2 linked regions of the Homo sapiens genome follow. The protein of the gene in region 1 purifies or fractionates together with the protein of each later gene. This does not show direct contact. Each region holds a gene or a part of one and is shown on either strand. Other genes may lie near its edges.

Region 1 (7,023 bases):
ACAAAATAATTTTTTTAATCGACCGTAGTGTTTCTTCTTCCCGTTAGAAGTAGTTTCTTGTTCCCCTCATGGTACATAAATATCAGAGAAAAGTAGTCTTTGAAATATTTACGTCCAGGAGTTCTTTGTTTCTGATTATTTGGTGTGTGTTTTGGTTTGTGTCCAAAGTATTGGCAGCTTCAGTTTTCATTTTCTCTCCATCCTCGGGCATTCTTCCCAAATTTATATACCAGTCTTCGTCCATCCACACGCTCCAGAATTTCTCTTTTGTAGTAATATCTGTAACAAAGGAGATTGCATAAGGTGACTGATCCGATGAAGGTTGCTAGGTAAATAATGGGTCGTACAGCCTTTTTGTTTTCAGAGACATGAAACTCCTCACCTCATAGCTCGGCTGAGCTTTTCATAGGTCATGCTGCTGTTGTTCTTCTTTTTACCCCATAGCTGAGCCACTGCCTCTGATTTCAAGAACCTGAAGACGCCCTCAGATCGGTCTTCCCATTTTATTAATCCTGGGTTCTTGTCTGGGTTCAAGAGGATGTCGCGGATGAATTCCCATAAGTGAGTCCCTCTCGGGTCTGATGAAAAGCAGAAAGGCAGGTTACTAATGATCTAAGTCACAGCAAAGATAGGGCAGAGAGCATTGAGTTAGGTCATCTTCCTGCAAGTAGGAGATACTCATTTCTCCCCTACTTGTCAGGGAAGATGGATCGCAGAATCACCAGATGTTGGACATTAAAAAGGTATTTAAGAATAAACTAGCACAATATTTTATTTTACAAATCAGGAAACCGAGGCACAGAGAACTTAAGTGACTTGATCAGGATCACACAGCTAACTAGTGACATAGCCAAGACTAAGCAATAGGTCTTAGGTCTCCTAAGCCAGGGGGAAGTTTCTTCTAGTTATTATCCACAAATTGCTTGGGGTTCACTTCAACCTGTTACTTCCCCAGAGAGCAACTCTCAACCACTTTTATCCAGTATCTCAACCAATTAAATTGCTTTGACCCAGCAACTGTGTTTCAGCCAAATGCAAATCAGTAAGGGTCTAGAATGTTTACTCCCAGAATAGATGAGGGTGGTAGGGAAAGGGGTGGTCACGCAGGGACTGGAGGACCCAATTTGAAAATGAAGCCACTACTGCAATAAGATTATCAACCAAATTCAACTTTACTCCCACTGAATTTTTGATGCCCCACCCCCACCCCACCCACCTTTCGAGGGGTTGCATTAATATGGTTTTGTGGGATTATGTGAAAGAGCAGATAAAGACATTCTAATTCCTCATAATTTCTGGATTATACCTTTTTTTTTTTTCTGAGACAGGATATCACTCTGTGGCCCAAGCTGGAGTACAGTGGTGCAATTACAGTTCATCACAGCCTAGACCTCCCTGGCTCAAGCAATCCTCCTGCCTCAGTCTCCCAAGTAGATGGGACTACAGGCACGTGCCACCATGCCCAGCTAATTTTTGTATTTTTTTGTAGAGATGGGGTCTCGTCATGTTTCCCAAGCTGGTCTTGAACTCCTGAGCTCAAGTGATCCACCCACCTCAGTCTCCCAAAGTGGTGGGATTACAGGCCTAGATTATACCATCTTGATTTCTTTCTGTGTTCCACCCACAATTCCATGTCTCTGATATTTCGTATATGTTCATAAGATTTTATTACTGAAGGAGACCCAACTCCCAAAGAGCAGTGTTGAATCTTAAGAAAAAACAGTCATTTCTTGGAATGGTAACTCCACAAAGGTAGGAGGCCAACATTTAGCAAAAGAAAGGATGATACATCTCAGCTGTTTCTTCTTATCTCGCTCCTCTTCCCACCCTTTTCTTCTGGGAGAGAGGAAATTGCCAACCCCATGCCTGCAAGCAGTTCTTAGGCACTGGGTGTCTCAGTTTTAGAGCACATATGACAGAACAGGGAGGAAATGTCCAGTGGGGCTCCACTTTGAGAAACAGCTGCAGAGGGGGCTTACTTTGCTAGCAAGTGATGCCTCTATTTTCTCACTCCACCCTGTTTGGGATGAAGACATGAAGGCAGCAGACAGAGGCGATATTTGCCAAAAAACTAGTGGCCTCCAGATGTGCCCGATGTGATGGGAAGGACCAAAGGCCATCTGAAAGCCAGCCAACTTACTGTGCTTTTTGGTGTGGCACTTGGCAGGGGGGTCTTGCTCCTTTTTCATATCAGGTGACTCTGCTAAGGAGAAAAATGAGAGGCGTTTAATTGACCTATTTCCTATAATTCTCTTTTTTATTCATGCATCCACTCATTTAAACAATATTTACTGAGCACCTACTGCATGCCTGGCACCTTTGAGTATGTGCTAGTGAACCAAACAAAACAGAGATGATAAATGCTATGGAGAAAAATGATGCAGGTTAAGAAATGGAGATAGATGTATGGACTTGGGAATAATTTGCAATTTGATACAAGGTGGTCATAGGAGACCTCTCTGATTCCACGACCTAAAGGATATGAGGGAAAAGGTCATGCAGAGAGCTTGTGCAACAGCCTTCCATGTGTAACATAGAAGTGCAAAGGCCCTGAGGTTGATGTGTGTTTGGTATATGCATGCTGTAAGAGGCAGAGAGGGAGGAGCTGAGGTTCTGATCATTAATCCCTTATGGGACTTTTAAGGACATGACTCTGAGAAAGATGGAAGCCATTGAAAGATTTAGATCATTGAAAAATTTGTGGTTTTTTTTTTTTAGCATAATAGAAAAATGTAAACATTTATAACAAAGGAAGATGACTTTTAAGCCAGAGGAGTGCCCTTTTTTGGCATGCAAAGTTACATTTTAATCAGCCTGACAAAGGCGCCATTGAGTGGCCCAAGCTCAATACAGAGGGCCACAGTGGACTATGGAAACACAGATTAGTTTAACAAATGACTCATTATGGCAACCTCTGCGACTATTACCAAAGAGGAGATGATGGAGGCGGACCTGGGAAATAAAAATTCTTCTCAGAAAGAAAACTAAATGATCTAGCCGTGTGTGTGTGAGTGTGAGTGTGTGTGTGTATATGTGTGTGTGTGTGTGTGTGTGTGTATTGGGAGGACCAAAGTAGATCTTACAAAGACTCTCACACTCAAAAATCAGCCAATTTTAATACAAAGTAGTCCCTAAATACAAGCCAATTATTTTAAGAAATTGGGCCAGTAAAACTGATCTCTTTCATGTGCCCTTCCTAAACTAGGGTCCACTGACCCAGTGTGGCCTTCAAGGGCCCCTGGACTGACTGAAACCATATATGAAGGGAGAGGGTTCACAGCATCCATTCAATTATCAGGAGAAGCCTATTATTCAAAAAAGCTATGAACTGCCAGCCATTAGCTCCTAATTAAATTGGTTAAGAAAAAAAAGCTACTGTTTATTGAGCACTTACTATGTACCAGGCACTGTACTAAGCACTTTAAATGAATCACTTTATTTAATTCACACAATAACTCTATGACACAGGTACTAATATGATCCACAGTTTTCAGCTGTGGAGGATCTGAGAAACAGAGGGGTCAAATGACTTGACTAGAGTCACACAGCTGGAATGTGGAGCCAGGATATGAACACAAACAGTTTGAATCCAGAAGCTTTACTCATAACCATGATTCTATGTCATTTCCAGAAATGGTGGCCGGCACATAATCTCCCTTTGCACATAACAGATTTCACACAAGCCTTTCTTGCCAAGAATCAGGTTCACTTCTGTAATGCTCTTGTTAGTAGAAAAGATAATTTCAATCTGACAATTCTATATTTCCCAACGTTCATGGGCCCTTTCAACCATCTTATCACCCAGCTAATCAAGACTCAGTGTTCCCAGCAATTTCTCGAAACGTCATGGCAGGATGGAGAGAGGGATTTAATAAGACCTCAGTAAACAAGAAACCTCTCATCCTGGTTAAGAATTTCTCTCCTGGCATTGTCACTAGCAGGGCCTGCACCTGACTTGGGTTTCTCTGAAATCCGAGAGGACAAATTCACAGGAAATGCAAGGAGACTTCACTCTCCCTCCCTGTAGGTTGCAGGGTGAGGTTGCAACATCCCATCAGGATGTGACAATATTGCGACAGGTCTGGCATCCACCCCGGTTTCCAAGTGATACATCACTCTGACAGGGCCACGTTGTACTGCAGACAAAGAGTGGCATTTACCCAGCAGGCCACAAGCAAAGCTCATTTTCAAATGACATCCAGGAGGGATGCAGGGCCATTATTTCAGAGCCAGGAGTTGAATTCAGAAAAATACAAGAGTCTCTCAGTATATTGGCCTCAATTATTGTTTGTGGGTTCCTAGTTGATCTAGAATCAGTTACTTCAGAGTTCAGGTGCCTTTGTGAATAAGACGAAAACCTTGGACCCTCTCCTCAGAAAAAAATGCACATATATGTACACATGAAATTTTGTCAACAATTTCAGGGGGCTGTGGCCCATGCAGCAGTCCATGGACTCTAAAACCTCTACACTAGATAAACCATGAGGAAATATTCTTTGAGTTGTCAGCCGTTTACCCAAGCTAGGCTCCACCCAGCTAGGAACGTTCTTTTTTTAATCCCCAAATAAAAATCTTTCCATCATCATAAAGGGGAATAAGCAGTCAAAGGCAAAAGAAGAACCTAATTTCTTCCAGACCTCTCTGCCTGTTGCAGTGTGCAGGGGTAAGCCGTGGAATCACTGGCCTGCTTTACCACTGATATCTTTTGATCTTTAACCTCTCTTTAATATGTGTCCTTCTTCTGCCCTAGGATAAAAGTCAAGACCTTTGAAGTTAGCCATGTGGTTAAGTGATTCATTCTTATAAAATAATGGCTTGCCCTGGAGAAGTTGTCCAGCCTGGCTTTCTCTTGCTTGGCTCCCAGGCACTCCAGGCCAAGGTCCTATCCAGTCCAGGCAGGGGCAGCAACAAGCCACAGGTTTGTGATGCAAGTGAGAGAGCGTGACTTCAGCTAAGCTGCTTCGCAAGAAGCAAAGATTAGAAGCATTTGCATATGATTCAGCTGTGAGCCATTTCTTTACGGGATATACAAATTTCAGTGTTCTAATAGACCGTGCCACCCTAGCTTTAGGCTCAACAAGTCAGTGGATAAACACATCAAGCCCGAGCTGGCATGACAGGCTGGAGGACTGTCGAGCAGAACAGGACACCGGCAGCGGGCATTTTATGAAATGGGCAGATGACAGAGAAATCAAAACAAAGCCTATTTCCCCACCTGCGTTTATCACAGAGGGCATCAGTTTACGCTGGGCCTCGCCTTAGCTCAGCTGGTAACTAGCATTAAAACATAGAAAGATATTTCACTGCATTCAATTACATGGGAGCTCGAAAAATAAAGACTCAGGCAAATGACCAAGGTTTTTCCGGGGTTCTGCTTCCATGCAGTAGAGACTATAAACTATTCTGAAAGAAACTGACCCATATAAGGCTGTAATTAACTATCCTACTGAAGGGCTATTACCCCAATGAATACACCAACCCCAGAGACTGCATTGATTCTTTAGGGCCTGGGTGATTGATCTCATTTTCCAGCCTGGGTTACAATCACAGGATAGAAATGGGGAGCTGCAGCAAACAAGGATCAGAAGGGTAAGGAGAGAAGATTCCTGAGCCCATCTTAAGAAGGACTATTGAAAAATACAATCGGTGGACTCAGGAGAGAGCGAGTTCCTTGCTACTGCAAATGCAAAAGCAGAAACTGGCCTCTAAGGCCCCTATTGATTTTGAGATTCTAGAAGGTGTAAGTCAAGATGTAGAAAAGAGGATGGCCCAGCTGTCAGGGCAGCAGAGCTGTAACTATGATGTTTTTGTTTCCCGGGTGCCTCAAGACCTACTAGCCCCTGAGGCTCAGGAAGTGGTTGGTTCAGCTTTATTCTTAGTTGGAATTTTTTGCCGTAAGTCAAAGACCCAAGTGGAAGGATGGAAGGATGGAAGGATGGAAGGATGGAAGGATGGAAGGATGGAAGGATGTGGGAGATGACACTGTAGGAAGTCGCAGAGGAACTCAGAGTGTGACTTGGGAGGTTTCCTCAGCCCTGAACCCCATGGTCTTGACTGAGTGGCAATGATTGCCACAGAAATTTTACCCCGGTTGGCTCAGTTCCCCCAGAATAGCAAATACACAGCCAAGCCTTGCCAGTGTTTGATCTATTCCCTAATTTTAACAAATACCTCAAGTGACACATAATGCTAAGGACCACTGGGGGAAGGAGAAGTCGAGAGCTATGCTGGCCTCAGCTCTTAATCTCAATTCCAGAAGCATTTACATTGGCTCCCAGCCCCATCTCATTTAAGGGGCTTGACCCAAACAAAACCTCAAACCAAAACCTTTCATTATTTCAGTTCTCAAAAGCAAAAACAAAAACAGAAAAAAAGAGGAAGGAAGGGTTGCAGACTAATTTCTTTCACAAAGACCCAATTAAATCCCATTTCTGAAGTTGCTCCAAATTTAATTCCAGGAGAGAGGCACTATCACTTGTGACTGATGTCTAAGTGCCATTTCATAGACCCAAAGAGATCCACAAGTTCATACTCAGATCACGGGAAACCATAAGATCCTCTTTCAACCATTTCCCACACTGTACACGCCAATGCACCTATTTGTAGGTGGGGGTGGTAATCTGAAATCCCCTCTCCCAGACTCCCAACATCCCAAACTTCTCACCCAGTGTAACCTTGGTTAAGGAGCATGGATAGCCCCAGTTGCATCCAAGCTTAACCAAATGCAGCTAAAGTGAACGTAACTCATAAAATGCAGGTGCTCTGACTGATTAGAGAGCACTGATGAGTCATCGGAATTAGACTTAAAAACTGACAAAATAGTGTAACTGTGGGGATTCTGGAAGTTTCCAATGGCTACCCCTTCACCCAGAAACTATCACTACAGGTTCACGGACCTTTGAATTTTACTATGAGGTATTCTTTCTCTAAAGCCAAATGTAGTTTGTTGAAAATTAAATATAGCCTTATTTCCCATAAGTATACCCAAATATGAATAATTTTAGCAGCTATATTGCAAGAGTA
Region 2 (6,791 bases), about 31 Mb from region 1:
CTGAAGGGCTCCTGCTGCCCCCAGAAAGGAAGTAGGGGGAGGCTACCTGGACCACCACAAGCCCTGCCCCCGGCAGCCTGCTGAGCATGGAAGGCTCCCAGCAGGTGCTTGTGACTGTTGATCCCTTTCCAGGCTGGCCCCTCCCTGTGGGGACCAGGGCTCTTTCCTGTCACTCCCAACCTTGACTGGTGGCAGCCTTGAAGAGCCAGCCAGGCCCGATTCTGGGGCTTTGCTCCCCATGCGATCTGGAGCAAGTTGCTTCACTCCCCTGAGCTACAGCCTCCTCTGCCAGCTGATAACAGGGTTGTGAAGATTCAACCAGTGAATCAGCAGCGCTTAGGAGCGCTCCTCCCCAGAGGGGAGCTTTAATCCCTGTTGGATTACAGGTTTCCTTGCTGAAAGATCTCCTTTCCAGGATATGGGGCTACAGAGCCCTGGGGGGAGGGCAATATCCTCTGCCCAACTGAAGGTTCAAGGAAGAGGGTTCTGGGGGAAGCATCGAAGCCTTGGAGAGCCTGATCCCAGAGGGAAGGAGATGTCAAGAACCTGCCCTGGTCATCTCCACCCATCAGGCCAGGGGCAAGAGAGGGGTGCTGTGGACAACCTGGGGTGGGATGTCTGGGCCACTGCAAAACTGGAGGCTCTGCCCTGTGGCCAGTACATTTGACCGACCTCAAGCTCACGCTTGGCGCAAACCTCCTGGAAGCCAGAGTGGTCCAGACGGGATGGAGTCAGGCCCTGGGAAAGTCTGCTCAGGGACACCCCATCTGCAAGAAACAACCCCTACACCATGCACAGCAGACCTCAAACCCCTGTGGAGCAGCCCAGGACTCATGCACCGGGACCCACCACTAACCTTTCCCCTTTGATCTCCCATTTCCTCCTTGTAGGAAGAGATAATAGTCATTGTCTGTGCAGAGCTGCTATGGGAATGAAAGAACATATATTGAATCCCTGGCGCAAGGCCTGGCACACAGCAAGAGTTCTTACCATTGTTAATCCTCCCCACCTTTTCTTACCAAGATACCACTTCTAGCTGTGTGACCTTAGACAAGTGTCCCGACCTCTCTGATTAACTTCTTCATCTGCAAAGTGAGGATAATGTGTACTCCCTCAGGGTGCTTGTGAGAATCAGTGGGTGAAAAGTGCTCAGAAATTGCTAGGTTGTACTGCAAAAAAAGTCCTTTGCATCAGCACAAAGCAGAGGCAGGTGGAGTGGGTGCCCTTGGTGAGTGGCAGACAGGCCTTGGCTAGTTTTTGAGAGAGCTGTTGGAGGTACCTGTGGCCATGGCTAAGCTCCAAGTGATGACACAGCAGGCCCAGGGGAGCTGCCTCTCCCACCTCGCCCCTGTGGCACGATCCTGGTACTCTTCCTCTACCCCTCCCAGGCTTTCAGCTCAGAGTCCTGGCCAGGCGTCATCCTCCTGATCAACTCAAGCTCGGCCAGCACTTCCACAAACTGGAGTCTGTCCCTTTAAGCCAGACACCTGAGGCCGCCAGGAACTTGTGACGGTTCCTTGGAATCCCAGGAAGATGGCAGAGTTGGTTTTCCACAGCTGGGCTGAGGAAGTGAGGTGGGTAGCAGGCTGGCAGCTGCCCTGGGCAGTGAGTGACCGCTGTGGTCTAGGTCTCTGTGTGGGAAATCACTTCCTTTTGTGGTCCTGGGATTCTAAGGCCCAGAATCAGGAAGGGAGGGTGACACGCTGGATGCCTACATACAATATCCATCACAGTGACAGTTGCCAGCTGCTCTTTACGTACTGTGACCTAGCACCTCTTCCAAGCCCCAGTGAAGCCCCTGGAGGCTCTAAGCACTGCAAGATCTTAGTGCCCCAGGGACAATAAGCCCCGCCCCCCAGCAACATGGAATTACAAATACAAACTACACTGAACTCTAAAATGCAGACAAATAATTCCAAGGCCTGCCTGTAATCCCAGCATTTTGGGAAGCTGAGGTGGGAGGATCTCGTGATCTCTTGAGGCCAGGCATTCGAGACCCACCTGGCACTACTGTGAGACCCCATCTCTACAAAAAAATATAAGAATTAGCCAGGTGTGGAAAAAAATTAACCAGGCATGGGGGCATGCGCCTGTGGTCCCAGCTACTTGGGAGGCTGAGATGGGAGGATAGCTTGAAGCCAGGAAGTCGAGTTATAGTGAGCTATGATAGCGCCACTGCACTCTAGCCTGGCTGACAGAGCGCTGTCACAAAAAAAAAAAAAAATTCAACAAAATCCAGACTTTTCTTGCGTTGACTACTTCAACACTGCTTTTCATCTGTTCCTTTTTTTTTTTGAGACAGAGTCTTGCTCTGTCACCCAGGTGGAGTGCAGTGGCACCATCACTGCTCACTGCAGCCTCGACCTCCCAGACTCTAGTAATCCTCCCACCTCAGCCTCCCGAGTAGCTGGGACCACAGGCGTGCACCACCATGCACAGCTAATTTATTTTAGATTTTTTGGTAGAGACGGCTCACTATGTTGCCCAGGCTGGTCTCAAACTCCTGGCCTCAAGTGATCCTCCTGCTTCCGACTCCCAAAGTCCTGGGATTACAGGTGTGAGCTACCGTGTGATTAATAGATCACCACCTATTAATAATAATCAATTAATTATTGGAGTCTTTTTTTTTTGAGATAGAGTCTTGCTCTGTCACCCAGGCTGGAGTGCAGTGGGTGCCGTCTCAGCTCACTGCAACCTCTGCCTCCCAGGTTCAAGTGATTCACCCACCTCAGCCTCCCAAGTAGCTGAGACTACAGGTGTGCACCACCACACCCAGCTAATTTTTGTATTTTTAGTAGAGATGGGGTGTTGGGAGCCGAAAGGGCCAAAGGGATTGTGACCAACTCAGCATTCCACTGAAGGCTATATGATCAAACAGCCACCTGTTTATCACGAATGCAGGATGTGGGCAAACTCCCACTGCCCTGCCACCAAAAGGTTTGCTGAGGGCCTTACTCCTTGGCACTGGGGTCCCTGAAGTTATCTACTGAGAAAATTAGCACCTATTGTTCAAAGGATGCAGTCTCACAAGCCTGCTGTGAACCAAAGTGCTGACCGACAATTACCTGACATACCCGACAATCACCCTCCCCCTTTCTCGCTATCTCTTTTGCCTACTACATACAGAGGGCTGTGTAAAGCTCAGGGCCCTTGTCCACTAGAGGCAAGGTGCCCCCTGACCCCTTCTTCCAAATATACTCTTTTGTCTCTTGTCTTTTATTCCCACGTTTGCCCGGCTTTGTTCAGTCCCCCTAGGTCCGTGCGGGCTATGATGGGGTTTCACCATGTTGGCCAGGCTGGTCTCGAACTCCTGGCCTCAAGTGATCTGCCCACCTCGGCCTCCCAAAGTGCTGGGATTACAGGCGTGAGCCACCACACCTGGCAATTATTGGAGTCTTTAAAAACACAGTCATGGGCCTTGTTTGCTGGTACCTCCAGCACATGCTCACTGTATCCACGGGACAGCCAGATTCGAAACATCAATATCAGAACAAACTTAGGAGATAAGGTGTCTTTCAGACGAGGGCACGGAGGCTCTGTGTGGGAGGTTGAGGGACTTGCCCAAAGCCATGCCGTCAGTAAGATGGCAGAGCTGACATGACTGACACCCCCTCCTTCTGGGCAGTTTGTGTCCTGTGGGCTCAGTCTGGTTTAAGACCACAGATTTGACTTAGACTGTCAGCACACACAAGCCAGTGTCACCATTTATTTCCTGCCGGTGTCTTTGGGCAAATCCATTTTCCCTTCTCTGTAAAGTGGAAACTATTTTTTTTCTTTTTTCTTTTTTTTTTTTGTGAGACAGAGTCTCTCTCTGTCACCCAGGCTAGAGCGCAGTGGTGCCATTTTGGCTCACTGCAACCTCTGCCTCCCAGGTTCAAGCAATTCCCCTGCCTCAGCCTTCTGAGTAGCTGGGAATTCAGGTGTGTGCCACCACGCCTGGCTAATTTTTGTATTTTTGGTAGAGACGGGGTTTCACCATGTTGGCCAGGCTGGTCTTGAACTCCTGACCTCAAGTGATCTGCCTGCCTCGGCCTCCCAAAGTGCTGGGATTACAAGTGTGAGCCCTCATGCCCGGCCTTCTTTTTTTTTTTTTTTTTTTTTTTTTTTTTTGAGTCAGCGTCTAGCTCTGTCGCCCAGGCTGGAATGCTGCAGTGGTGAGATCACGATTCACTGACTTGAACTCCTTGGCTCAAGTGGTCCTCCCACCTTGGCCTCTCAAAGTGCTGGAATTACAAGCATGCCTAGGTGCCTGGCCAGGTAGAAACATTAGTCACTCGCGCTCCAGGAAGGTTGTCAGGCAGCGCTGAGCAGTAATGTGTCCTACTCACCTGCTGTTTATCCAGCACCAGACCTCTTCTAAGAACTTTACCTGTTTCAGCTCACTGAATCCTCACAACACCCATTGTACAGAAGAGGAAACTGAGGCAGCGAGTGGTTAAGTGACTTCTCCGAGGTTACACAGCTAGGAAATGGTGGCAACAGTAAGAGCCCACGAAGAGCTGCGGTTGGTAGTTCATTCTGGACAGCCCTCCCGTGAACCGTCCCTGTACTGGCACTTGTTGCTGGGGACTGTCGCTGTCCTCTCCCTCCCCGGGCCAGGTGTGTCCTGGAGGGCAGGGAAGCGTCTTGGCACGCGGGTGCGCGCCGCCCCCTCGGCCTCCTGGGCTCCCTGAACCTCGCAGGACCCCGGCAACTTCGAGCCCCGCCCCAGCTCCAGGCCGCGGGGGCGCATCGCGGGCGTCGGGCGGGGCGGCCCAGCGGGTAAAAGCTGCGCGGCCGCAAGCTCGGCACTCACGGCTCTGAGGGCTCCGACGGCACTGACGGCCATGGCGCGTTCGAACCTCCCGCTGGCGCTGGGCCTGGCCCTGGTCGCATTCTGCCTCCTGGCGCTGCCACGCGACGCCCGGGCCCGGCCGCAGGAGCGCATGGTCGGAGAACTCCGGGACCTGTCGCCCGACGACCCGCAGGTGCAGAAGGCGGCGCAGGCGGCCGTGGCCAGCTACAACATGGGCAGCAACAGCATCTACTACTTCCGAGACACGCACATCATCAAGGCGCAGAGCCAGGTGCGGCGGGCGGGGTGCTGGGAGGGGACACCCGGCCCAGATGGGGGAGGCCACAGGCGCTGCCCCAGCGTGCATGAAGGGGGCCTAAAAGCGCAATCGGGATATTTTCATGCAATATTTTAAAAATCGAATTAATGCTAAAACTCCACGATGGACAACCATCTAAATTTCAAGGAAAGACATAATTAAACCCTGTATTGCACTACCTGCCTTCCTGGCTTGCCTGGTCCTAGTCTCTGCCCTGATGGGGTGGATCGGGGAGGAGGGAAGGCAGGTGGGGACAGTGGGCAGCTCCCTAGATGGGGCATGTCTGATGTCTGCCAAGGCTGCTGGTGGGGCTCAGCCTCCAGGCCTCTCCACCCTCCATCCCCACCAGAACTCCCCCCCCCACCCCCCCCCACCCCCCCCCACCCCGTCTGAATCATCCCCTCTCCCTCTCTCCCCACCTGAGTGCCTGGGGGCAACAGGAGAATATATCAAGAGGTGAGAAGTGAGGATCAAGGGTCAAGACCCCTGACCTGCCCCTACCCTATGCCCCCAGCTGGTGGCCGGCATCAAGTACTTCCTGACGATGGAGATGGGGAGCACAGACTGCCGCAAGACCAGGGTCACTGGAGACCACGTCGACCTCACCACTTGCCCCCTGGCAGCAGGGGCGCAGCAGGAGGTAACAGCTGGGCTCCTCCAGCCCCAGCCCTCCCCAGAGCCTCAGGCACTCAGGTTGTCCATCCTGAACTGGTTTGGCTGGACACGTAGATGTCTAGATGTCTGGCTGAACCTGTCGTCCTTCTGGATGAGTCAGCCTCTGGGCCAAGATGGGGTGCAGAAAGGAAGCTGGGGCTTCCCTCGGGAATGGGGAAGTTGGCTACCAAGATCTGGAGTCTAGCCCCAGACATGCGGCTTGACATCCGTTGGGTCAGTGATTGTCCCTCTCTTGGCCTGGAGCAGCCTGGCAGGCAGAGGGCTGGCTGTTGGGAGGAGACAGGTCGAGGCTGGGCTCACCCCTCCTTCTCCCCCATATTCCCTCCACAGAAGCTGCGCTGTGACTTTGAGGTCCTTGTGGTTCCCTGGCAGAACTCCTCTCAGCTCCTAAAGCACAACTGTGTGCAGATGTGATAAGTCCCCGAGGGCGAAGGCCATTGGGTTTGGGGCCATGGTGGAGGGCACTTCAGGTCCGTGGGCCGTATCTGTCACAATAAATGGCCAGTGCTGCTTCTTGCATTGGTTTCTTCCAAGTGCTTCGCTTCTGCCCCCATCCCCCACTCCCACTTCTGGCAGCTCCCAGCTCCCCAGCCCAAGCTGAGAGGTCACCCTGCCACCTGCAGCAGAGCTGCTGCTGTCCCAGCCCAGACAGTGCTGAAGGTGCAGGGCTGAGCCTCCAAATGTGGAGCCCCCAAACACCCCAGCATCACAGGCATAGAGGAACAAACCTTAGAGCCCCCACACACAGCCAGAGACTCCCAATATTCTCAGAGGTCAGGGGTGGCGGCAGACTCACAGAGGAGGGGCGATGGCCTGAGATAAGAACAGGGCCGGCTGCCTGGGAGCACTCTGAGGAGGAGTCTGTGCTGTGCTCCCACTCAGCCCCAGGAGGAGCTCATGGGTGGCATGGGGGGCTTCAATCAGGCAGTGTCCTCACCCAGGACACTGAGCTCCCAGCCTATAAAGATTCCTCCACCTGCATGTGGCCCAACGATGGCAGAGTCCCTGCAGGCCAAGAGACCA

What was found.
Region 2: the proteins of EHF (region 1) and CST6 purify together in Homo sapiens (affinity purification with mass spectrometry; 2 studies listed by BioGRID and IntAct, with this or other methods). This does not show direct contact.

What each region holds. Positions count from the first base shown.
Region 1 is NC_000011.10:34,652,088-34,659,110, reverse strand, and holds part of EHF (ETS homologous factor), read right to left. Parts: intron 2,204-7,023; coding exon 2,141-2,203; intron 579-2,140; coding exon 383-578; intron 280-382; coding exon 180-279; 3' UTR 1-179. UniProt on the Homo sapiens protein: Transcriptional activator that may play a role in regulating epithelial cell differentiation and proliferation.
Region 2 is NC_000011.10:66,007,219-66,014,009, forward strand, and holds CST6 (cystatin-M precursor), read left to right. Parts: upstream 1-4,789; 5' UTR 4,790-4,826; coding exon 4,827-5,066; intron 5,067-5,607; coding exon 5,608-5,733; intron 5,734-6,098; coding exon 6,099-6,182; 3' UTR 6,183-6,287; downstream 6,288-6,791.